7 linked regions of the Homo sapiens genome follow. The protein of the gene in region 5 purifies or fractionates together with the protein of the main gene of each other region. This does not show direct contact. Each region holds a gene or a part of one and is shown on either strand. Other genes may lie near its edges.

What was found.
Region 1: the proteins of SOX6 (region 5) and PRRC2C purify together in Homo sapiens (affinity purification with mass spectrometry; one large-scale study listed by BioGRID and IntAct). This does not show direct contact.
Region 2: the proteins of SOX6 (region 5) and NFIB purify together in Homo sapiens (co-immunoprecipitation; one large-scale study listed by IntAct). This does not show direct contact.
Region 3: the proteins of SOX6 (region 5) and LSM14A purify together in Homo sapiens (affinity purification with mass spectrometry; one large-scale study listed by BioGRID and IntAct). This does not show direct contact.
Region 4: the proteins of SOX6 (region 5) and RBM33 purify together in Homo sapiens (affinity purification with mass spectrometry; one large-scale study listed by BioGRID and IntAct). This does not show direct contact.
Region 6: the proteins of SOX6 (region 5) and POLDIP3 purify together in Homo sapiens (affinity purification with mass spectrometry; one large-scale study listed by BioGRID and IntAct). This does not show direct contact.
Region 7: the proteins of SOX6 (region 5) and CAPRIN1 purify together in Homo sapiens (affinity purification with mass spectrometry; one large-scale study listed by BioGRID and IntAct). This does not show direct contact.

What each region holds. Positions count from the first base shown.
Region 1 is NC_000001.11:171,586,530-171,590,029, reverse strand, and holds part of PRRC2C (protein PRRC2C), read right to left. Parts: intron 3,028-3,500; coding exon 2,809-3,027; intron 2,383-2,808; coding exon 2,279-2,382; intron 1,652-2,278; coding exon 1,525-1,651; intron 662-1,524; coding exon 425-661; intron 1-424. UniProt on the Homo sapiens protein: Required for efficient formation of stress granules.
Region 2 is NC_000009.12:14,304,142-14,307,641, forward strand, and holds part of NFIB (nuclear factor 1 B-type), read right to left. Parts: intron 3,380-3,500; coding exon 2,848-3,379; intron 2,705-2,847; exon of another isoform or gene 2,611-2,704; intron 1,878-2,610; coding exon of another isoform or gene 1,837-1,877; exon of another isoform or gene 1,612-1,836; intron 1-1,611.
Region 3 is NC_000019.10:34,175,504-34,179,003, forward strand, and holds part of LSM14A (protein LSM14 homolog A), read left to right. Parts: intron 1-3,500. UniProt on the Homo sapiens protein: Essential for formation of P-bodies, cytoplasmic structures that provide storage sites for translationally inactive mRNAs and protect them from degradation. Acts as a repressor of mRNA translation. May play a role in mitotic spindle assembly.
Region 4 is NC_000007.14:155,651,161-155,654,660, forward strand, and holds part of RBM33 (RNA-binding protein 33), read left to right. Parts: intron 1-3,500. UniProt on the Homo sapiens protein: RNA reader protein, which recognizes and binds specific RNAs, thereby regulating RNA metabolic processes, such as mRNA export, mRNA stability and/or translation.
Region 5 is NC_000011.10:15,965,949-15,968,546, reverse strand, and holds the end of SOX6 (transcription factor SOX-6), read left to right. Parts: 3' UTR 1-2,098; downstream 2,099-2,598. UniProt on the Homo sapiens protein: Transcription factor that plays a key role in several developmental processes, including neurogenesis, chondrocytes differentiation and cartilage formation.
Region 6 is NC_000022.11:42,587,384-42,590,883, forward strand, and holds part of POLDIP3 (polymerase delta-interacting protein 3), read right to left. Parts: intron 190-3,500; coding exon 123-189; intron 1-122. UniProt on the Homo sapiens protein: Is involved in regulation of translation. Is preferentially associated with CBC-bound spliced mRNA-protein complexes during the pioneer round of mRNA translation. Contributes to enhanced translational efficiency of spliced over nonspliced mRNAs.
Region 7 is NC_000011.10:34,086,231-34,089,730, forward strand, and holds part of CAPRIN1 (caprin-1), read left to right. Parts: intron 1-74; coding exon 75-183; intron 184-3,164; coding exon 3,165-3,226; intron 3,227-3,500. UniProt on the Homo sapiens protein: mRNA-binding protein that acts as a regulator of mRNAs transport, translation and/or stability, and which is involved in neurogenesis, synaptic plasticity in neurons and cell proliferation and migration in multiple cell types.

The sequences.
Region 1 (3,500 bases), on a different chromosome or scaffold from region 5:
AGGGGAAAGGGGGGAAGAAAATATATATTAAAAAAAAAAAAAAAAAGAAAGAAAATGGGGAAGTCTATAATAATTGATATTACTTCTTTGCTATTCCAAAAAAAAGTGTGCATCTAAACTCAGATCTCCCTCAAATATTTATTTGATAACAATTCATTTGGCCACAGTTTAAGACATTAATTCATTTCCTGACTACAGTTGCAAAAAAAAAGAAAAAGAAAAAGAAACAAAAAGAAAAAAAAGATGAAAGGAATGGGAATGGGGGAAAAAAAAGAAAAAAAAGGGGGAATGAATAAAAGTAGTTAGCTTGGTTAAGTCTGCTAAGACAATGAATGCCTGGATATACAGTTATGGGTCCAGAGGCATTTTAAGACATGGTTCAGAGACAGATTCTTGATCTGTTGGCTGTTAACACTGTACTAACCTTCATGTCTTGTTCAGCCTTCAACGCAGCCTGGGCCTGATTACCTCTGACTCCAGATAGTGATCCACAAGGACCCCTGGCTACATGTGGCAAACGAGCATGGCTCATGAGGCCTGTGGTCAGCGGAGGAGGCATCTGACTGGCCAGTGCCATTGGTGGCCTCTGAACAGGCGCTGGGAAGGTGTTAGTATGTGGGGCTCTTACCAATGGAGGGACCAGGTTAGGCTGGGAGAGAATCTGAGTGAAAAAAACAAAACATACAACATTGAACTGTTAAAAAAAAAAAAAAAAAAAAAACTGCCAACTAGACCAGGTTGGCTCATCCCAGAGTAAATCTGTGCCCATCCTACCAGTGAAAGGAAGTGTACAGATTGTGCCATTCCATTAACAAGGACAAGGAATAAACAGGCCATGCTTGGAGAGTTTAACAGAAAAACTAGGCAAAGCATGCTATGGCACTTCAGTTGGTCCTAGCATCTCAGTTGTAAATTCTGAAGGGGGGATAGAAAGACTTTTAATTAGGCTATCTTTTCAAAAGGTAGTTGCAGAAAAGGCACACACCTGTAACAAATGTAATCTGAAGATAAATAAAATCAATACTAATTCAACAAATGTGAATTTCTCAGGAACCAGTTCTAGTTTGTGAGAGTTCTTAGTCCTTTTATACGATCAGCAAGGGGAAGAGAAGCCAACATTTTTTACATATATTAAAACATCTTTTTGGAAATTTTATCTCAATTGCACATAAATATCTTAACAACAACAAAAAACAACTTTAAACCTAGAAAACTTCAAGCACTGGGACCCTTCGCTGAAAAGTCAACTCCTTAAAAAAAGTTAAAAGGAAAAGGACTCATTATCAGAGCTGTGTGGGGAATCTTTTAACTATTTCTCTTGTCTGCTTTAGAACTAAACAATTACCATGTCTGGCTATAAATCGCAGACTATCTTTATAAAATAAATTTATTGTTAAATTCAGAAACAATTTTTTATTAAAAACTGTACTTCTTAACTGGTTAACATAAGGCAAGATAATAATTTATCAGATTAGCAACTATTTTTAAGTAAATAATACTCATTTCTTAATTATGTCTGCCCACCTGGGGTGCAAACTGTGTAGGAAATGGTTGTGTCATTCTCACAGTGGCAGGGGCTGACTGGAACTGCTTCTGGTAGACAATGCTGTTCATTTTGCTGGACTGGCTGTTCGGACTTGTAGAAGTAGCCCTTGGAAAGAAGCCATTACTAGTCAGTATAGTAATACCAAGTAAATAATGCTGTTAGATTTTTGCAAACACCGTTCTTGGTATTTTCATCATACTTGGTAGTTGGTAAAAATTTACTATGATGATTACCAAAACATTCTGGTAGAAGAGAGACATTGGAGGAGCAGAGGTAAGAAAGGATACCAGTTACCAGTTAGATTGGCTGGTTCGAGACCAGCTTGGACAATATTTTTTTAAAAATTAGCCAGGTGTGGTGGCACGTGTATGTAGTCCCAGCTACTCAGGAGGCTGAGGCAGGAGGCTTGCTTGAGCCCAGGTGTTTGAGGTTGCAGTGAGCTATAATCATGGCACTGCACTCTAGTCTGGGTAACAGTGTGAGACTCTGTCTCAAAAAAAATAAAAGAAAAAAAGGTTTGCTCTGTAACAAAAGAATTTACTTAAAATATAGTACAATAAACACATTTTAAATAATTTAAAAGCTTAACATTTTAGACAAAACTATCAAAAAGAATGTCTTAATAATTCCTTTTCTGCTTGGAAAAGGGATTATGTCACACAGGACTGATAAGTATTTAACAAATAGTGACCAAATTGGAATTTCATAAGCAAATTTAAATGCCCATTTTACCGGAAGGGACTAGATGTTGGTGTGGTGCTTCTACCAGCGATTGGAGGTGTGCCTGGTTTTATATCAATGCCACTTCCAAAGGCTTTTAGTTCCATTTCAGACATCTGAGGAGAAGCATAAAATAAACTTAACATTTCTTTAATTCCACAAGCTAAGTGCTGTGTTTACATGTCCTATACGTGAAGACGTAATCTAGGAAAGGGCAAAGAACCTTAGTACAAAACTCCTATAGTTAGGCTTCAAGTATTATGGAATTACCTGACCAAACAGACTTATAATTAAATAAGCCCAAGAGACACTATAAATCCAATTCTTCCAATAAATTTGTGAATTCTTTGTTATTAGGTAAAAACTAGATGGGGCCAAACACATTAAAAGTAAATAGATAAAATGTAAATATACTGGGGTTTGAGATTTTTGCAGGGTGGTAAAAACTGACGCATTTTAGTTTTTTAGATAACACAGATGCATATATCTGAACACACTACCTTAAATTCTCAAATAACCTGTGCAAATGTCTCTTTACTTACTTTTCCTGTGGTTGCAATCATGCTATGCTGTGTTCCAGCAGGAATTAATCCTCTGAAAGGCTGGCTTACTTGTGCAGGACGACTCAGACTCTGAGCCTGTGCTTGGGGAGTGGTATGCTGTAATGGGGGCTGAAGAGTCTGAGGCAAAGCAATTAGAGGTTGCCCTGTAGATCCAAAATTAGGCAAGGAAAGCTGCGATGCTGGTAAAGGTACTGTAACCTAGAAAATAAGTAAAGAGAAACTGAAGCAATTTGTTTCTGTTTACTACAGACATATCCATACAACTATACACAACTCTTCAAATACTTTTGAGTAAGATTTCAAACAGAACACATCGGCCAGGTGCAGTGGCTCATGCCTGTAATCCCAGCACTTTGGAAGGCCAAGGCGGGCAGATCACGAGGTCAAGAGATCGAGACCATCCTGGCCAACATGGTGAAACCCTGTCTCTACTAAAAAAAAAAAATACGAAAATTAGCTGCATGTGGTGGCATGTGCCTGTAGTCTCAGCTACTTGGGAGGCTGAGGCATGAGAATCACTTGGACCCAGGAGGGGGAGGTTGCAGTGAGCCGAGATCCTGCCACTGCACTCCAGCCTGGCGACAGAGCGAGACTCTGTCTCAAAATAAAATAAAATAAAATAAAATAAAATAAAATAAAATAAAATAAAATAAAATACATAGAACACATCC
Region 2 (3,500 bases), on a different chromosome or scaffold from region 5:
CCATATCAGATGCAGATGTAGCACTATAGCTTGTGTCAAAGCTCTGGTAACTCTTCCCACATTTCAGAAAGATGAGGCTGCTGGGCATGAAGAAGGAAAAAAAGTGTGGGTTGAACCAAAAGAGAAAGAGGGAAAAAAGAAAAGCATAGGAAGTTGGTCAACAATGAAACTTTAGTACATGTTGGTCTTTATTTCGTCTTCCAGAAGAGATGCAGTGTGTGATCTTGTATAAATAACCAAGAGGACTATTGACATTTCTAGATCTGGAAATTGTCAATATATTGTAACATCACTCCACACTGCAATGCGGATGCCAACTAACAAATCACAGGCATCCTGAGCTAAACAAAGAGGGTCTGATGCCAATCCTGGTGCCAGTGGCAACCATCTTTGGCATTCTCTCTGTTCTTTCTCATGTTTTTCTCCCAGTCATTTAGAAGTGGGGAGAGAGAAAAAGGGGGAAACGTAATTTTGTTGCTCTTTCTGCTGCAAACATTACATTTCTCTTTTCTGATTTTTCTTTCGTGTTTTCCTTTATACTTCTTTTCCTGATTTATAAAACAGACTTAGGTGAGTTATCATGTACTTAGAAGACAAATAAAAAGTCATCACTCGCGATATGCAGCCCTCTAACTGACCGGAGAATTATCTTTTAAAATCTGCCTTCTTTAATCAATTGCACTATAAAATGACATAATTAACCTACACTTGACAAAGAAGAATATATAAATTTTGAAAAGGGGAAAACACAAAAGCATCCTGACGTGAGTTTTTCAAAGGAAGAACCAACAGATGTTAAGAGAAGATGATGCACTGGCAGGTAGCAGAGGATACAAGTTATATACACAAGATAAAATAATGAAAAGTTCTTACAATAGAGATTGTTGAACCAACAACAAAATCAATGTTTTATCTAAAACCATGGTCTCTTAAGAGTTGCTTAAAACTTTATAGTTATCATGACCAGTGGTGCAACATGGAAGGCATTTATGCGTTTTTTTTCTTTTTTCAATCTATCTCTACAAATCTTTATTGTCAGTTCATCAAAACTAAGAGAGCTGGCTGCCTTCCCCAGGAGTAAATGTGCATGCAGGCAGGCACACCTCAAAACCTAGCCTTCAAGCAACTTAAAATGTGAGCAGTAGTGAAGTGGTTGCAAATCTTCCCTCCCTGCACTAAAAAGTTACATGACCCACTTTTTGAAACTTTACTTCCATCCTTGACTTTCACAACACAGTTACAACACATTTATAGTCAATCCAACACATATATACAGCCCACCTTAAAGTGTCACCTCCTAGACATCTGTCAATCAAATAAGTGTCATGTGTTACTGAGTTTTATTTTAGGACACATGGGACAAAAATATTATTTTCCCCAAACCATCATTATTTGGACTGTAATTCTTAAATGCATGGAAATATTAAATGCAATGTTTCATTTTTTCAGGAAAAGGTAATATTTCTAAAAGTGCAATGTCCAACACCATTATTTAAAATCAGACTAAAAATTCTAAAATGACACTTAAGCCTATCTCCAAAGCTACAAGAAAATCAAGACAAAAAGCACATAGTGAGGGCCTAGAATTCAGAGTCAAAAAAGTAATTTTGATTTTTTTGAATAATAAAGCTCATAGCAGTTTATTAAGTCCCACATTTATATAACAAACCTCAGGTAACAGTCTGTCACCTGGCTATCTGCAGGCCATTTTTCCTCCCACCAGGCCAAGTTTGGAAATGACCTACCATCTGTGACAGCTCAAACTTCAGTCTACTTTTGGTATGCGGCTTTGTAAAATGATTGTTTTACTATGGATTGTTGGTAATGCAAGGACATCTATATCTTGATGCATTTATTTGAAGAAAAGAAATTCTTACCTACTTAAGGAAAATATATTAAGAAAAATAAAAATAATAAACATTTCATTAACTCAAATATTCAGTAATAACATCATCTTTTTTAATTATTTAGGTAAAATGTATACCATTCTCCTTCTCAGGTATTTTAAATAATAGGTATGGTATGCAGTTTCTGTATTCTTTTTAAGATTTATCTTAAACCAGTGTAACCAGTCCACTTTCTGTTTTTTGTTCTGTAAGCAGCGCTGCGACTTTCCTCCTCGGTAAGTTTTATGAATTTACATACAAGTAAACTAACATTATTAAGTGTTCCCAAGTAACTCTGGGAACATACTATAAATAATTTAAATAATAACTCAATTCCATTTAATCGACAGTGAATATTGCACAATCAAAAGTGATGATAGAAATATTAAAATTAAGTAAATCTAGGTCTACGTAAGATATACTTTTGATATTATCTATCTTAAGCATTTTGTAATAGTAAACATTAGTTCTATTTTCAGTGCGATACCACTAAGTTCATAAACAAAGTCCCTCTACCTCATTAATTAATAAGGTTAATACAAAAATTATCTAGGATGGTTTGGCTATTCATAAATAAAGTTATATTTTCAAATCAGGAAAAGATTACTAGATTAGATGCAAAAATGTAGCCTACGACAGAAAGTATAGTGTAATGAACTATATTTGTTAGACTACCCTATGTCTTTGAAAAACAGTATTATTTTAAAGATACTTGAAAACGCACCTCTTTGTGGTCTTTCTTAAATATCCAAGCCTATCCAGGTACGAAAGCTCTGTGTCTATTTACATGGCTCGCACATGGCAGCGGACATGTGAGTGAAAGCGGACACCCTACTATACCCAGAGAGGGTGGAGGATATCTAGGGGCCTTGAGGACCATCTAACTCAAGCCAGATACTCTGTCTACGGAGATTTGTAGGCGGTGTTTGCCGTGCTAGAAAAAAGAACAATCTGCTCCTACCTTGCTCCTGCACGTAGTATGCCAAAAACAAATCAAGCTCCTTAACTGATACTGTGATATGATGTGGCTGGACACAAAGTGCTGGGTTTGTGCAATGTGGGGATTTCATGAGCCGCTCTCCATCGGTACTTTCCAAGGGGATGCCTTTGAACAGGATCACCATGACTAGATCCAGACGCCAGACTTTGTCTGCCTGTCGCAGGCAGTCGATTCTCCTAATCTTACCCTTCTGGTCGGGATTGGATAAGACACAGCACGGGTGCTTCTTGCCAGTCACGGTGAGCACAAAGTCCTCTCGATACTCCTGGCGAATATCTTTGCGCAGTTTGGCAAGGAGCCTGGATGCCCACTTCTGTTTGATTTCAGGCTTTTCACTGAGAAGCTCATCTTTGACTGCTCTTTCTTCATCCTTTGACATTCGCTTCTCATGCTTTTTAAAGTACTTGCGTTTTCGAGCCTGCAGGTTGAACCAAGTATAGGCAATTGCACGGACATGTGGAAGAAGTGCCTCGATGAATGGGTGAAATTCATCCTGTGGAAGACAGAGGGGTGAGGAAAAGATGTGCATAGTCAGTTTAATTTTAAAAGCTCAAAAAATAAGAAAAGAAGACCACAACCCGTTTCCAATTCAGTACAAAAAGTTATACATGAAA
Region 3 (3,500 bases), on a different chromosome or scaffold from region 5:
TTACAGGCATGAGCCACCGCACCCGGCTGCTTTTTCTTAAGCAACATGAGTTAAATGTGTAACCAGTTTGGGGAATTTGATTATGTTCGCAAAAACTGACATTATCAAACCTTTATATATTAGTCTACATGATATTATCTAATCGAAAACTACATTATAACTGTCTAGTCAATACTGGACACATTTCAGATTTCAAGATTAGAAGCAAGGAGTTCAATCTTAAAATTTTAAAATTTACATGACTTGTTGAGTAATTCGATATCAGAAAATTTCACCTTCCATTTCAAAATTTGAACGAAGAATGGTAGTCTAAAAGATTAAAGCCAAAAGTGTTTGTTTTGTTTTGTTTTCGTTTTTTTTTGTTGTTGTTTTGAGACAGAGTCTTGCTCTTGCCCAGGCTGGAGTGCAGTGGTGCGATCTTGGCTCGCTGCAGCCTCCACCTCCCGGGTTCAAGCAGTTCTGCCACAGCCTTCCGAGTAGCTGGGACTACAGGCGCCCAACACAGCTGGCTAATTTTTGTATTTTGAGTAGAGACGGGGTTTCACCATGTTGGCCAGGCTGGTCTCAAACTCCTGACCTCAGATGATCCACCCACCTTGGCCTCCCAAAGTGCTGGGATTACAGGTGTGAGGCACTGCACCCGGCCTGAAGCCAAAAGTTTATTCATGGAATTTATAATACAGTGTGTATTTGGATGTAGAGATCCCTGTTACTGTTTTTAAACTATGGATTAAGAGTTAATCTCTTTGAGTAACAGTCTTAGCATTCTCTTTTGAACTTTTTTTTTTTTAATTTCTCAGGGAGAGTGTTATTGGGAAACCTAACTACACAGGCTGAAAAGATACATAAGATAAAAATGAAATATTTTTAAACAAACATCTTTGTAACCACCACCCAGGGCAAGACAGACATTGCCAGCATCCCAGAAGCCTCCCACCACCTATATTTTCCCATCACAACTATCACCATCTTAATTTAAGCTAGATATAAATGTTCTTCTGACATTTATAGTTTTACCATATAAGTTTACATCTCTAAATAATAGAGTTTAATTTTGCCCATTTTTAACTTTATGTAAATAGGATTGTGTTGTATATATTTTATTTTTAGCTTTTATTGTTTCATAATATTCCATCATGAATATAACACAAGTTTATTCCTTCTGCCATTGTTTTGGATATTGCATTTAGATTGTTTGCAGTTTGGGGCTATTATAAACAATGCTTTTATGAACATTTCTGTTTAAGTGCACTGGTGCATGTTTATTTCGTTTTCTTGAGATTATATACTTAGAATTTGAATTGCAAGAACATGGGGAATGTTGGTCTTTATCAGGTAATGCCAGGTAGTTTTTCAAAGTAGTTGTTTAGTGGTTTTTACTTCATTTATTAGTATGTAAGAGTTCTTGTTTCATATCCCTTACCAACAACCGTACGTGGTATCATATATTTCAATTCTAGCCAATCCTGGTGGGTATGTAGTTGTATTTAGTTTTAATCATTTCCCTCATTACTAAATGGGGCTGACCAGCTTTTCATATCTGGGTGTTTGGATTTCATTTTTCATAAAATGCCTTTGAAATCTTTTCCTTTTTTAAATCGAAACACGTCTTTTTCTAGAGTTCTGTATTCTGAATATATCTCCATTGTTGGATGTATATATTGCAAACATTTTTTCCATTTAGTAGTTTCTTTAAATTAACAGAAGTTCTTCATTTTAATGTAAACATGTTCATCAGTTTTTTATGGCTAGTGTTTCTTTTTTTAAAACATCATAGAGATACTTTGATTATCTTTAAACCTTTTTGTGCTTTGCTTTTTCACATTGACGTTTATAATGCATCTGAAATTGATTTTGTGTACAATGTGAGATATTCAGAGCTTTATATTTAGTAAGGGATTCACTTGGTTTATATTGTCCATATTATAATTTAGGGCTTGGATATTATAATTTAAATATATCTGGAACTATAAACTACTCTTGAAATTTTTGGCTATTTACATTTGATGTGGTATATAATTAGGGTAACCATATGGCCTAGTTTGCCCTGGTGGAAAGTCCTTGTTTGTGCCTGCTCTGGCATAATTATTAAAAACATCCCGGCTGGGCAGGGTGACTCAGGCCTGTAATCCCAACATTTCCAAAAGGTCAAGGCCGGGGTATTGCTTGAGCCCAGGAGTTCAAAACCAGCCTCGGCAATACAGGGAGACTCCATTTCTACAAAAAATTTTAAAAAGTGCATTAGCCAAGCATGGTGGCATGCATGTCTGTCGTCCCAGCCACTTGGGAGGCTGAGGCAGGGGGATTGCTTGAGCCCAAGAGGAGCTGTGATCATGCCACTGCACTCCAGCCTGAAACATAGAACAAGACCTTGTCTTAAAAAATAACAATGATAGCCTGTAATCCCAGCACTTCAGGAAGCTGAGGCAGGCGAATCACCTGAAGTCAGAAGCTCGAGACCAGTCTGGCCAACATGGCGAAACCCCGTCTCTACTAAAAATACAAAAATTATCTGGGCGTGCTGGTGCATGTCTGTAATCCCAGCTACTTGAGAGGCTGAGGCAGGAGAATTGCTTGAACCTGAAAGGCGGAGGTTAGAGTGAGCCAAGATCACACCACTGTACTCTAGCCTGGGCAACAGAGCGAGACTCTGTCTCAAAAAAAAAAAAAACACAAAATAATAATAATAATCTGTTTTCTCTTTTGAAAATGTTTCAGTGTGGATAAGTTATCACACCACATAATCAAAAGCCTAATTGCAGAGGTGCTGTGAAATGGTCGATGTGCCTTATTTTCTGCTAGAGATGTCACAGACTAGCTTTAGTTCTAGAAAGTGAAACAGGTAAGTTTGAGGGGCTTTGATCCTCGGAACCTAAGCATATGTCAAGAAGTCATAAAGGCAACCTAGAAAGGCTTTGATGTCAATCTGCTATGTATGTTTATAGATGATCTGTGTTGCAGTTTGTTTCTGCAGTTTGTTGCAGTTTGTAGTCTGTGTCACAGCTCTGAATTTATTTTCTTCTCAGCACTGATCATGACTTACACTTAATCTTCTTTGCTTATTTGCATATGTGTTTATTGTCTGTCTTCACCTTCCCCTTCACCTCCAGACTCTGAGCTCCTGGTATGAAAGGTTGTTTAGTTAGTGAGTAAATGGAAATGATTTAGCATTTTAGCTTATTGTTCTTGTAGAAGTATCTTGGGTATACCTCCAAATAATGCTTTTCCATGTTCACAATTGCATTTCCCTATAAAATTAAATTATCCTGCCTCACATTAAGAAATCTTGAAGAATTTCAGTGAGTAGGGATGCAAGAGGATGAAATCTAGTGACATAATTAACATTATTGGGGAGGTAAACTCTTTGTGACTCAAGCTCAATTATAATTTTCATTTAAAGTTTAAAGGAAGCCTCCATTCAGGGTGTAGGAAGAAATTACACAGTGGTGACATGTATGAATATTTTATGGAATAGTTCCAGTTGTGTTTGCACCTACGTC
Region 4 (3,500 bases), on a different chromosome or scaffold from region 5:
AGCCACTGCACCTGGCCGACAGCTTCTTGAGTGTGTGTGTTGAAGGTAAATTTTTTGAGATTGAGACTCCTGAGTCTGAAGGAAATTTTAATTTTCACAACTTGATTGGTGGTTTTGTTGGGTCCAGAATTTTAGATTTGAGTTTATTTTTGTAAGATTTTTGGCGGTATTGTTGTGTTTTCTGGCATCCAGATCTGCTCTTGAGAAGTTTGAGGACATTCTGATTCCTAATCATTTTTTATGTGACCTTTTTTCATTCTAGAAGTTTTTAACAACATTTTCTCCTCTTTGTTTGACATTTCATCCCTTAAACTCAGCCATTTAGAAGGCTTCATGGCTAGGCCAGGAGGTGGAGGTTGTAGTGAGCCGAGATCGCACCACTGCACTCCAGCCTGGGCAACAGGGAAACTCTTTGTCTCACCAAAAAAAAAAAAAAAAAAAAGGGTCTAGGTTCCTGGGAAAAGAAATGAGTGTCAGTTCCTATAGATTTTAAGTCATGATGGGAACATCCAGTAGGCTGAGCTCAGCTCACTTGCCTCTTCTCGGCTACCCAAGTTTATAGAGCAAGCCTTTATAACTTCCATAATAGGAGGGGTCCTATCTCATATCAAGCAGGAATTCTATTATGATTGATTTTTAAACCCTGAATGATGAAAGTTTGTTGAAAGACAAACAAATGACCAATGAGGACTACACTTCATAAACAAAATAAAAACTTCATTTTAGGGAGAACCTCTCCTGGGGCCCGTGTAACATAGGAGATTTTTAAAACAGTGACTACAAATTATTTCTAAAGCAACATGGTGTAGGAACTCTTTCTGAAAATTTGGCTTGGCTATTCAGAACTTACTAGTTATGCTGTAAGGCTCATATGTTCACTTCGAAAGTTATTGGACATTACCTGATTTGTAGTTAATATTTAAATAAAGGATCTGGATTTCCTCATCTATAAAATAAGGAATTTTGACTATTAGTGATTTGGACTAGGAACATATTATACATGAGTGTGATATTGAGGAAAAAGAAGGTTGAGAACCTTTGGAATACAAAGGTCAGCAAACTTTTTCTGTAAAGGGTCAGATAGTAAATATTTTAGGCTTTGCAGGGCAGATGAGTTTTGTTGGAAGTGCTGAACTCCGCCGTTTACCTTGAAAGCAGCCATAGACAATATATGCCTGAATTGGAATAGCTGTGTTCCATTAAAAGCTTATTTACATACACGGGTGGTAGCTAAATTTGGGCAGAAACAGGTGGCAGGCCCTACTTGGCCCATGGGCTTTGGTTTGCTGACCCTTAGATTAGATAATTGCTAGAACCCTATCACAAGCTAATAGTCTATGTGGTATCTTATCCAAGTCGAGGATTCTGGAAAAGAAGAAGAAATAGAATGGTAAGTAAAAGTTTGTGTTAACTGTAGATGTCTGATTGCTGCATGATAGAGAATTGTAGAAATCTAGTAGATATCTTCAGTCTTGAAGGAAAATTGATCCCCCTATTAAAATAGAATGTCTTGTACAATGTTTAGGCCTTAGAAGGAGATTTTCCAGGTAAGGAGGTCATTGACCTCTTTCGTTTTGCTCAGTTAATATTTTACCCCTTGGCTTTCATGGATGTGCTGTTCTTCCTTTAAAGTTCTGGACTAATGGGGACACATTTTTTCTTCTTGGTTCTGTTTAATATGACTGCTATGAACTGGAACTTTAAAAAGTATTTGTATTCTAAAGGAAAACAGAGGGAAATGACTCAGAATATATTAAGAATATAAACAGGCTGTACAGGGTTCTTGTGTTAGCTTGCCCTGTAAGATTTTGAGTCATTATTTCACTTAGCATGATGTCTTCAAGATTCATCAGTGTCGTAGCATGTGTCAGAACTTCCTTTTTAAGGCTAAATAATATTCCATTATATATCTATACTATTTTTTTTTAAACCATATATCCTTCAATAGACACTTGAGTTGCTTCCACCTTTTGGTTATTGTAAATAATACTAATAGGAGCTTGAGTATATTAATGTGTCTTCAAGTGCCTGCTTTCAGTTCTTTTGAGTGTATACCCAGAAATGGAATTGCCACGCCAGTCCTTGGATTTAGGGGCCAGTCTTAATCCAGAATGACTTCATTTTAACTAATTACATCTGCATAGATTCTATTTCTAAATAAGGCCACATTCTGAGGTTCTGGTGGACATGCCCTTTTGGGGGATGCTGTGGTATGATAAAAAATGAATATTTTTTTCTGCCCAGGTTCCCTCGGCAGAACTTTGGAAACCCTTTGAATTTACTATCTTTTCTACACTAATGAGATGGCTTATAGCGGGGGTGGGGGCCCTAGATAGCTTTGGGGTGGGGGCTTGTCAGAAAAACTAACCCCATGTTAAGAGGGTTAGAACGTTCAGGCTCAACCCCCAGCCTCCCTCGAGGGGAGGGGCTGGAGATTGGTGGTAATCACCATTAGTCAGTGATTTAATCATCAGGTTTAGGGAGCTTCTGAGTTGGTGAGCACCTCCTCGTGCTGGGAGGGTGGTGCACCCTGACCCTTCAGACTGGCCCTGTGTACCTCTTCATCTGGCTCTTCATTTGTATCCTTTATAATAAACTGTAACAGTAAGTACGGTGTTTTCCTGAGTCCTGTGAATTGTTATAGTAATAGCAATGGGGGGAGGTGTGATAACCCCAGAATTTGTAGACTTCAGCCAGGGAGAAGTGTGAGTAGCCTGGGCACCTCATTGCAGTTGGCATCTGAAGTGGGGCAGCCTTGTGAAACTGAGCCCTTAACCTGTGGGGCCTGCCCGAACTCCAGATGATTAGTATTAGGATTGAATGGAGTTGTTGGTATTGCAGTATGATTGTGCAATTTGGTACAGTCAGCAAGTCAAACTTTTAAAAAATATTGCAAAAGATGGCTGAGTGAAGTGTAATAATACACATGCAGCATTTTAAAAACCAAACTTATTAACTTCTACCCCACCCTCAAATAAACCAGCACGTATATCCATCAATCCACAACTAATCCAGATTCAAAATACTGATGTTTTCATTGACTTCTCCTTCCTTGTTCTATTCAGTTAGTCAACATGCCTTGGAATTTCTAAATTGACAGTTTCTGGTTCATGCATTTGTCTTATTCTCCCTTCTGTTTCTTCACCGTGATGCTAACCACATTTTTTTTTCTTAATGGTTGGTTTGTAGTTACTTTGTTTTACCATTGTTTATGTTTTATCGATTAATTAGTTCTTGCTTCTTGCTACTAGATTACCTTTCCTAAACTGAGGCTGTGTTGCATATGAAGTATAGATTTCTTACGTTGCTTTTCTAGTAATGCCCCAAATCTTTACCACCTTTTCTTTCTGACTACTTCTCTCTATGAGTGTGCTTTCAACTCACCTGAACTCCTTGCTGTGCTCTAGGCTTGTGGAACTCAGCCTCTGTGCTGTTATTTCCCTGGAATGCCCATCTACTTGACAAAAATGTAGTTATTCTCAGCCTTCATCTCAGTTATT
Region 5 (2,598 bases):
AGGAAAGCCCATTTACCCTCAGTAGGAAGGCAGCCTGGTCACTTGAACAGCACAGCTGAGGCTGCTTCTCTCAATTTACTCATTTTGCAAAGAATTGACCTCTACCAACTCATTAGGGAGAGGAAAAAGAATCACTTAGTAATTTTAAATCATATGAGAAGTCCTGTACCAAGTGCCAACAACTGCAAAGAAATGCAGCTAGAGGAATGTATTGAAATTACTACTGGGTCTTCCTTTTTAATGAGAAAATGACAAAAATGGTTGCTGTAGCCCTGCCTGATTTTGTACACGTTTGTCTAAGAATTGAGTTGGCACTTAAGCTCACTTCTCAAAGTATAATAATATTGTATGACCTCATTTGTCCTTTCACAAAAGCACTTGCATCATTTCCTTAAGTCATCTGCTCCCTGACATGTTTTCTTCCCTAATAAACAACTTCTGTCTGTTATTCCTGCCAATGATGTTCTGTTTCTGATGCCATATCCTATTGAGCGTGCCCCTGTACTAATATCATTGAAAATATTGATATGCAAACACATTTCCTTTTCATCCCCATTCTATCTTTCCCTTTGGGGACAGATTGCTTTCCAAAAGCTCATGAACAAATATTTGGAATGCTGGTACCTTTGGGGCAGAGGTAAGGGTGGGCGGGGTGGGGGCAGAAAGGTAATGCTTAATGCAGATAACTCTTCTAATCAGTGTCCATGGCAATATGAACGCTTGAAGAAAACTCAGTGACATATCTTGCTCAGTAGTTTCTTATTCCTGAAGAACCACAAGCATAAAGTGAGGCCTCAGTGCTGGTGCTCTTGGAGTATGGGGAATGTGCAAATATTTAACTGTTTTGTATGCTGCACATTGCAGGTCTGCTCATGTGCATTCTCCCTTTGTCTTCCTTTGTCATATGTGTTTTTGCTTTTTTGAAAGTGCAGTCTTTATTGTACCCTCCTCCAGCTTGTAGCAAATTAGAATGCTTAGCATTTATGTTCATTCATTATTGTATTTGCCATGTAAAATTTTTATTACCTTAGACAAGCTTATAAGCTGTTACTACATAACTTATCTTACTGTAACTCTTTTATTTCCCCCGACGTTGTAATTTGTTTGTGATGTATATTGTGAAATTGTATTCTATGTTAATTTAATCAGCACAATTCACTGACATGCTGGACTGACATGCTGGCTGCTGTTTCAAAGTGTAAAGTTTGTGTAGGGCTGTTGGGACAACTGCAACTCTGTTGTCAAGGTACTGTGCTTTGGTTCCTATAGCAACACTGGGTGTGGCCCTTGAATTGCTAAGGGCATTTAATACATCCTGGAGCAAATTTTAACTGCAGATTTTCTTTGTAGAAATTCTATGTATAATGCAGGTACCTACTTGGCCCATGGCTGGTAACTATTTGGGCAATTAGAAAAAAAGAAAAAAACATAAAAACTAGTGTCTATTGCTGCTTTGAATATGTTTGAAAGTCTGAAAATGTAAATAGTTTATCAAAAAAAAATCTTGTACAGTCCAGTGTAAAGTTTTTAAATGACCTTAAGGGTTGCCATCACATCTTTCTCACACTCTCCTCTTGATAATAATAATAATAAAAAGTTTGCTAAGGATTAAAGAAATGGGAAAAATAAAAAAAATCTCTTCAAATTTACAGGAATGAATCATTGTTCTTAGCTTTGTTGCATACACAAACTTCTTGGATTTTGTTGTGCAGTATTGACGTGAGATAAAGCTCAACATTGAATAATCTTTCAGTGGTACTTTTCAAAGTCTTCCCCTCCTCTGCCTCATAATTAAGGGAAAAGACAAAATTGAAAGACACACTGTCTTTATCTATCCTGGTGTATGTTGGCACCTTAGCTACTTTTTTTTTTTCCTTTTTGCACAAGGTGCTTTCCTGATATGTTCAACATGCCATCTTTGGGTGATAATGTATATGCCGTGATGGGGCTCAGGCCCCTTAGGGGAGTGTCTATAAGAACTGCCTATTTATGCTCATTTACCTCAAGACTGTCCTCTCTACCCTAATCTAGTTGTCATCACTCCATCTTTTGTACTGCTGTTGACACTTACAAATTAAAGATAAATTTTGTTTTATGACCTCTGTGTATGGCCTTGTCTGTGCCCTGCAAACTGTCCCCACCATGGGGCCCCAGCCAGCCCTGAATGTGCCACCCTCTTGCTGCTGGAGCCTGCAGAGCTCTCCTGCCCTCTGCCATTGCTTCTGCCTGGCCCAAGGGTAGGTCTCTGAAAGACATGGAACCCCTTAGCCTGGAAAGACTTGCCTGCTCTTTTCGTTGTGGAGCACACCTGGCTGCAGCAGGAAATACTTGTGGATTTAGAAGGGAGGAACGGGATACAAGGTGGATTTTTGTCAAGAGAAGATAAGAGAGCATGGCATTGCCTCTTTACCTGACTTCTTCGTGTCAGTGAAACAGCTTAGAGCCTTTTGGAGTATGAACAACTCTCAAGGGCCAGCCTCTCATCTGACGCCACCTTCTACGAGCCTAGCAGCCAAGAGTGGAAAATGCTGCACTTATGGAACCTTTCCCTCCACTGTGGTTGGCAGTAGTTGGCTGATTACTCAGTACCTTCTGCCT
Region 6 (3,500 bases), on a different chromosome or scaffold from region 5:
ATTAGAACAGAGGAAACGGAATGGGGGGATGAAGGGGAGCTGTGATGCAGGCAGTTTACCCATTAGAACAAAAAGAGATGGACGGAGCTGCCTCTCCCCAGCACCCCGCCTTTGGAACTCACAGCAGGATGGGCTGGTCTGAGGTGATAACATTCCCATTCATGTGAAGGTTGCACTTCATCGGCTGCCCTGAAAAACCAAAGAAAGAAAAAGGCTCTGCTATGAGACCTCGGCTCCTCACACAAGAGGACAAGGGCTGTACCTCCATTATCAATGGTCAAAGCACCCACCACTGGCAGTTCTGGCTCCACAGATGGAGATGGGGCTGCTAGGTTCCAGTCAAGCCAGACACTAAGAAAATCCCAGGGCGTGAGGAAACCTCAGCAGTGGAGCACCAAGAGGCAAAGTGGCCACAAACCTTGCTTCATACAGGAAGAGATGAGTGGGAAGTGAGGGAGAAACGAGACTCAATGTGAAGCCATCCAAGTAGTAAGGGAAAAGGTTTATGCTATCAAATTCAGTGAAAAGATGATCAAAAGCATTATGTACAGGCTTCTACTCTGTCTACAAAGGATGAAGCACTAGGAAGACCACACTCCCACTGTATACAAAGCATAACATGTGTAACGGTAATAGCACAAAAAAGAGGAAGAAGGAACAGGGCCATGTGGGAGTAACATTTCCATATCTTACTCGAGTTAAGTTAGTGAATACATCATTAAAGGAATTAAAATATTGGGGAAAAAATGTGAAAGAAAAGCCACTGAAGAGGAACAAAAAAGTAAAATGGGGCCGGGCGCGGTGGCTCACGCCTGTAATCCCAGCACTTTGAGAGGCTGAGGCGGGTGGATCACGAAGTCAGGAGATCGAGACCATCCTGGCTAACATGGTGAAACCCCGTCCCTGCTAAAAATACAAAAAATTAGCTGGGTGTGGTGGCGGGCGCCTGTAGTCCCAGCTACTCAGGAGGCTGAAGCAGGAGAATGGCGTGAACCTGGGAGGTAGAGCTTGCAGTGAGCAGAGACCACATGCCACTGCACTCCAGCCTGGGCAACAGAGCGAGACTCCACCTCAAAAAAAAAAAAAAAAAAGTAAAATGGAAGAAATAAACCTAATTATCAATATTAAATATGAATGGATTAAATAATCCAATCCAAAGACAGATTGTCAGATTGAATTCAAATAAAAAAAAAACCAGTAAGATCTAACTATACACTCTCTATAGGTGACACATTTTTCTTTCTTTCTTTTTTTTTTTTTTTGAGATGGAGTTTCGCTCTTATTGCCCAGGCTGGAGGGCAATGGTGCGATCTCGGCTCACGGCAACCTCCGCCTCCTGGGTTCAAGCGATTATCCTGCCTCAGCCTCCGGAGTAACTGGGATTACAGGCATGTACCACCACACCTGGCTAATTTTGTATTTTTAGTAGAGATGGGGTTTCCTCATATTGGTCAAGCTGGTCTCGAACTCCCAATCAGGTGATCCGCCTGGCGGATTACAGGAGTGAGCCATTGTGCCCAGCCTAGGAAACACATTTTTACAGTTGATGAGAGAAAAAGATTGAAAGTAAGAGTGGGCCAGGCTTGGTGGCTCATGCCTGTAATCCCAGCACTTTGCAAGGCTGAGATGGGCAGATCACTTGAAGCCAGGAGTTTGACAGCAGCCTGGCCAACATGGCAGAAACCCCATTTCTACTAAAAATACTAAAAATTAGCTGAGTGTGGTGGTGCACACCTGTAGTCTCAGCCACTCAGGAGGCTGAGGCACAAAAATCGCTTGAACCTGGGAGGAAGACGTTGCAGTGAGCCAAGATCATGCCACTGCATTCCAGCCTGGGCGACAGAGCGAGACTCCGTCTCAAAAAAAAAAAAAAAAAGTGAACAAAGATATATCACTCAAATAGCAACCCTAAGAAAGCTGGTCTTTTACTTATTAGCTTATTAGCTATTAGTAATATAAAATGAAATATACTTTAAAACAACAAAAAAAGTGACTAGAGGTAAAGAGAGATTTAAATTTGACTGAAGGGTCAATTCATCAGGAAGAAAACAATCAAACATATATGCAAGTAACAACAGAACCTCAAATATATAAAATAAAAATACACAGAAGTGAAAGGAACAGACCAACAGTAATAAAGATCTCGCCGGGTGCAGTGGCTCACACCTCTAATCCCAGCACTTTGGGAAGCCCAGGTGGACGGATCACTTGAGGTCAGGACTTCAAAACCAGCCTGGCCAACATGAGGTCAGGAAATCAAGACCATCCTGGCTGACACAGTGAAACCCCATCTCTACGAAAAATACAAATATTAGCTGGGCGTGACAGTGGGCACCTGTAATCCCAGCTACTTGGGAGGCTGAGGCAGGAGAATTGCTTGAACCCGGGAGGCAGAGGTTGCAGTGAGCTGAGATCATGCCACTGCACTCCAGCCTGGGTGACAGAGGGAGACTCCGTATCAAAAAAAAAAAACAGAACCTCAGTATTTCACTTTCAATACTAGATAGAACCAAGCAGATCAACAATGAAACGCACTTAAACATTACAAAGCAACAAGACATAATAGACATGTACAGAACATTCCACCTAACAACAAGAAAATACATATTTTCCTTAAACACTCATAGAAGAAAAGAAAATCTGGAAAATTCATGAATATATGGAAATTGAAACAATCCTAAATAACCAATGGGTCAAAGGAGAAATCACAAGGGAGATTAGAAAATAATTCAAGATGAATGAAAATGAAGGCATGATATACCAAAACACGGAATGCAGTTACAGCCATGCTTAGAATATATAGCTGTAAATGCACATACAGTCATGTATCATTTAACCATGGGAATACATTCCAGAGTGCAGTGGCACGATCACAGCTCACTACAGCCTCAACTTCCCAGGCTCAAGTGATCCTCCCACCTCAGCCTCCCCAGCATCTGGGACTACAGGCACACGCCACCACGCGCCCAGCTAATTTATTTTTTGAGACAGGGTCTTGCCACGTTGCACAGGTTGGTCTCAAGTTTCTAGGCTCAAGCGATCCTCCTGCCTCAGCCTCCCAAAGTGCTGGAATTACAGGCTTCAGCCACCACACCCGGCTGTACAGCATGTTACTCTACTGAGTAGAGTAGGCAACTGTATTTGTACATCTAAACGTAGAAAAAATACAGTAAAAATATGGTATTATAATGTTATGGGCCCACTGTCATATATGTGGTCTGCTGTTAACCAAAAAGTCCTTATACTGCATATGAATACATTAAAAAGCAGAAATAAACCTACAGAATGGGAGAAAATATTGGTAAATCACTTATCTGATAAGGGACTTAAGAATATGTAAAGTACTTCTACAACTCAGTATTTAAAAAGCAGACAAAGATTCTGTACAGGCATTTCTCCAAAGATAGCTGGGCACAGTGGCTCATGCCTATAATCCTAGCACTTTTGAGAGGCCGAGGTGGGCAGATCACCTGAGGTCAGGAGTTTGAGACCAGCCCGGC
Region 7 (3,500 bases), about 18 Mb from region 5:
TTAGTCAGACTCTGTAACAGAAAGTTTAAGTGTTTATATTATTTGACTTTATTCTATCCTAACTTAACCTGTAGGATTCAATGCTGGATTTTGAAAATCAGACACTTGATCCTGCCATTGTATCTGCACAGCCTATGAATCCAACACAAAACATGGACATGCCCCAGCTGGTTTGCCCTCCAGGTTAGTAGTGGTACATTTTTATGTGAGAGAGAAATATAAGGCCAGTACTTTCAGGTTTTAAAAAGATTGTGAAAATAAATTTTGTTTATTTTAATGACTGTTTAATTTTGACTCTTAGGTCTTTTAATTTGATAGAAAGAATGTTATTGTTCCTATGATTTGAATTAAAAATGTAGTTTATAACTGTTTATTTTTAAACTTTTCATTGGCATGTAGATATAGAAAAATATACGCAAGTTTAATGAGTTTTTATAAACTGAAAACACCTGCAGCTAGATTAAGAAATGAAACATTACCAGTACCCCAGAAACCTACGTTGTTTCCTTTCAATCACTAGTTACCCTCACCCCTAGCGATAGCAACCACTTCCGTACTTGTAACTGTAATAGACCAGTTTTGTCTGTTTTTGTAACTTTAACAAGTGAAATTTTGCTTGGCTTTTAAAATTTCAAAATTAATCTAGGAGTAAAAATAATAGAGGTGCCTTTTTTTGAATGCTTTTAGCTTTCTAGGAGAATTTCTGGATTTTATTACCTTAAAAAAATACACAGCAATGAAGTGGGTAAGGGAATATGTAAGAGGCAAAGGGAAGAGAGAAACCACAAGACAGTTTCAGACTCTTTCTGGACTTACACCATTATTTGAAGTAGTAGCACTAAATACAGTTGGTGCCTTCCATTGGGTTAAGTGGACCTTCTCTCCAGGACTATTAGTGATTGTGAGTCATCTTGGTTTTTCCCAGAACACATCAGTTTTAGTTGCACAAAAGTGGAACTAAATAAAATAACCTATTTAATGTTGCATGATGTTAAATATCATAAAATAAATTGCTGAGTAAAAGTATGTTTAATGACAGTTAATTTGGTGTAAGGTAGTTAGGATTTTTCTGAAGTAAAGGGAGCTCATATCTCTCACATTTTTTTTTTTTTTTTTTTTTTGAGACGGAGTCTCGCTCTGTCGCCCAGGCTGGAGTGCAGTGGCGCAATCTCGGCTCACTGCAAGCTCCGCCTCCCGGGTTCACGCCATTCTCCTGCCTCAGCCTCCCAAGTAGCTGGGACTACAGGCGCCCGCCACTACACCCGGCTAATTTTTTGTATTTTTAGTAGAGACGGGGTTTCACTGTTTTAGCCGGGATGGTCTCGATCTCCTGACCTCGTGATCCGCCCGCCTCGGCCTCCCAAAGTGCTGGGATTACAGGCGTGAGCCACCGCGCCCGGCTCTCACATTTCTATCAAGAGTTTTAGAAAACAGATCAAAGGTGACACCTACAAGAGAGCAATCATGGTTTTTAGTGTTCATTTTCTGAGCTCTACCAAAGGAAGAGAGTAAGTCGTTTTCTCAGCTGGGGAGTTGTGTGAAAGTCAGTATACATAGCACTGATAAAACCTGTAAGGCTATTTAGTTATTTACATAATGCTGAGTCCATTAGACTCTCCAGTGAAAATGGGTACTTTCTAAATGACTAACCAAAGATCGTCGTTTTGATTATCTGTTTAATCATTGTTGGGAAGGGAGGTGAGAGAGTGATGGGAATTGTTAAGAAGATGCATGCTGAGTTGAATATAGGCTGTTAAAAAGTATATATTATTTATTTGTTTATTTAGAGACGCAGTCTCGCTCTATCGCCAGGCTGGAGTGCAGTGGCGCATTCTTGGCTCGGCACGCTGCAACCCCTGCCTCCCGGGTTCAAGGGATTCTCCTGCCTCAGCCTCCCCAGTAGCTGAAAGTACAGGCACACACCACACTACACCCAGCTAATTTTTGTATTTTAAGTAGAGATGGGGTTTCACCATGTTGGCCAGGATGGTGTCAATCTCTTGACCTCGTGATCCACCCGCCTCGGCCTCCCAAAGTGCTGGGATTACAAGCATGAGCCACTGTGCCTGGCCGAAAAGTACATATTTTAAATTTTCTTTTTCTCTAGAAACACTTGAAATTGAAAGTTGGTTATGTTAACATATATTGAGCCGGGTATGGTAGCTCATGCCTGTAATCTCAGTGCTTTGGGAGGCTGAGGAGGGAGGATCACTTGAGCCCAGGAGTTTGAGACCAGCCTGAGCAACATAGACCTCGCCTCTACAAAAAAATTAAAAATTAGTCAAATAAAAAAGTTAGCTTGGCAGGGTGGCATGCATCTATAGTCCCAGCTACTCAAGAAGCCAAGGTGGGAGGATTTCTTGAGCCCAGAGTTTGAGACTACAGTTAGCTATGATGGCGCCACTGCACTCCAGCCTGGGCAACACAGTGAGACCCTGTTTCAGAAGAAACAAAAGGTCAAAATGGAATACTATCTGTCTGAGGTCTAGAGTATGAATAATGCCACTTTATTGTACAGCTTTAAAAGTCTTTTTTCATGGCACTGATTATTTGTTAGTGCATTCTATTAACATTTTACTTTACTTTTGGAAAAAACAAGATGAAACCAATTGTGAAAGTAAACTATTAAATAATAACCACTGCCGGTAAACCAAAATGCTCACTTGAAAGCTAAAATTTTATCTGCATTTCCCAATTTACTTTCATGATTGCTAAAAAGTTTATTTATGGTTTGGCTATAGAAATTTACCTTTAATTGCTGGGCATGGTGGTTCATTCCTATAATCCCAGCACTTTGGGAGGCTGAGGTGGGCAGATTGCTTGAGCCTAGGAGTTTGAGACCAGCCTGGGCAACATGGCGAAACCCTGTCTCTACTAAAAATACAAATATTATCCGAGTGTGGTGGCACACACCTGTAGTCACAGCTACTTGGGAGGCTGAGGTGGGAGGATCACTTGAGCCTGGGAGGCAGAGGTTGCAGTGAGCTAAGATCACATCACTGTACTCCAGCCTGGGTGACAGAGTGAGACACTCCCCCCCCCCCCCCCCCCGCAAAAAAAAAAAAAAAAAAAAAAAGCCTTTAATAGCGAAATAAAAGGTATTTAGACGCGTCTCTCTAAAAATTTAATTTTGTTTGACAAAAATGTTTTGGTCACCTTTGCAGTTCATTCTGAATCTAGACTTGCTCAGCCTAATCAAGTTCCTGTACAACCAGAAGCGACACAGGTAAGAGTGATAAAACTATTTTCTTCAGGGCCAGGTTAGGTGGCTCGTACCTATAATCCTAGTACTTTAGGAGGCTGAGATGGGAGGATCACTTGAGGTCAGGAGTTCAAGACCAGTCTGGGCAGTGTAGCGAGACACCATCTCTATTTTAAAAAAATAATTAAAAAATATTTTTTCACTTTTGTTTTAATTGGTTCCTTGGTTTCTTTCTTAGCTTATGAAAGAAAATAAGAATTTCATCAGTGTCCAAGTCTTCTGTTGGAATTCAGCAAAT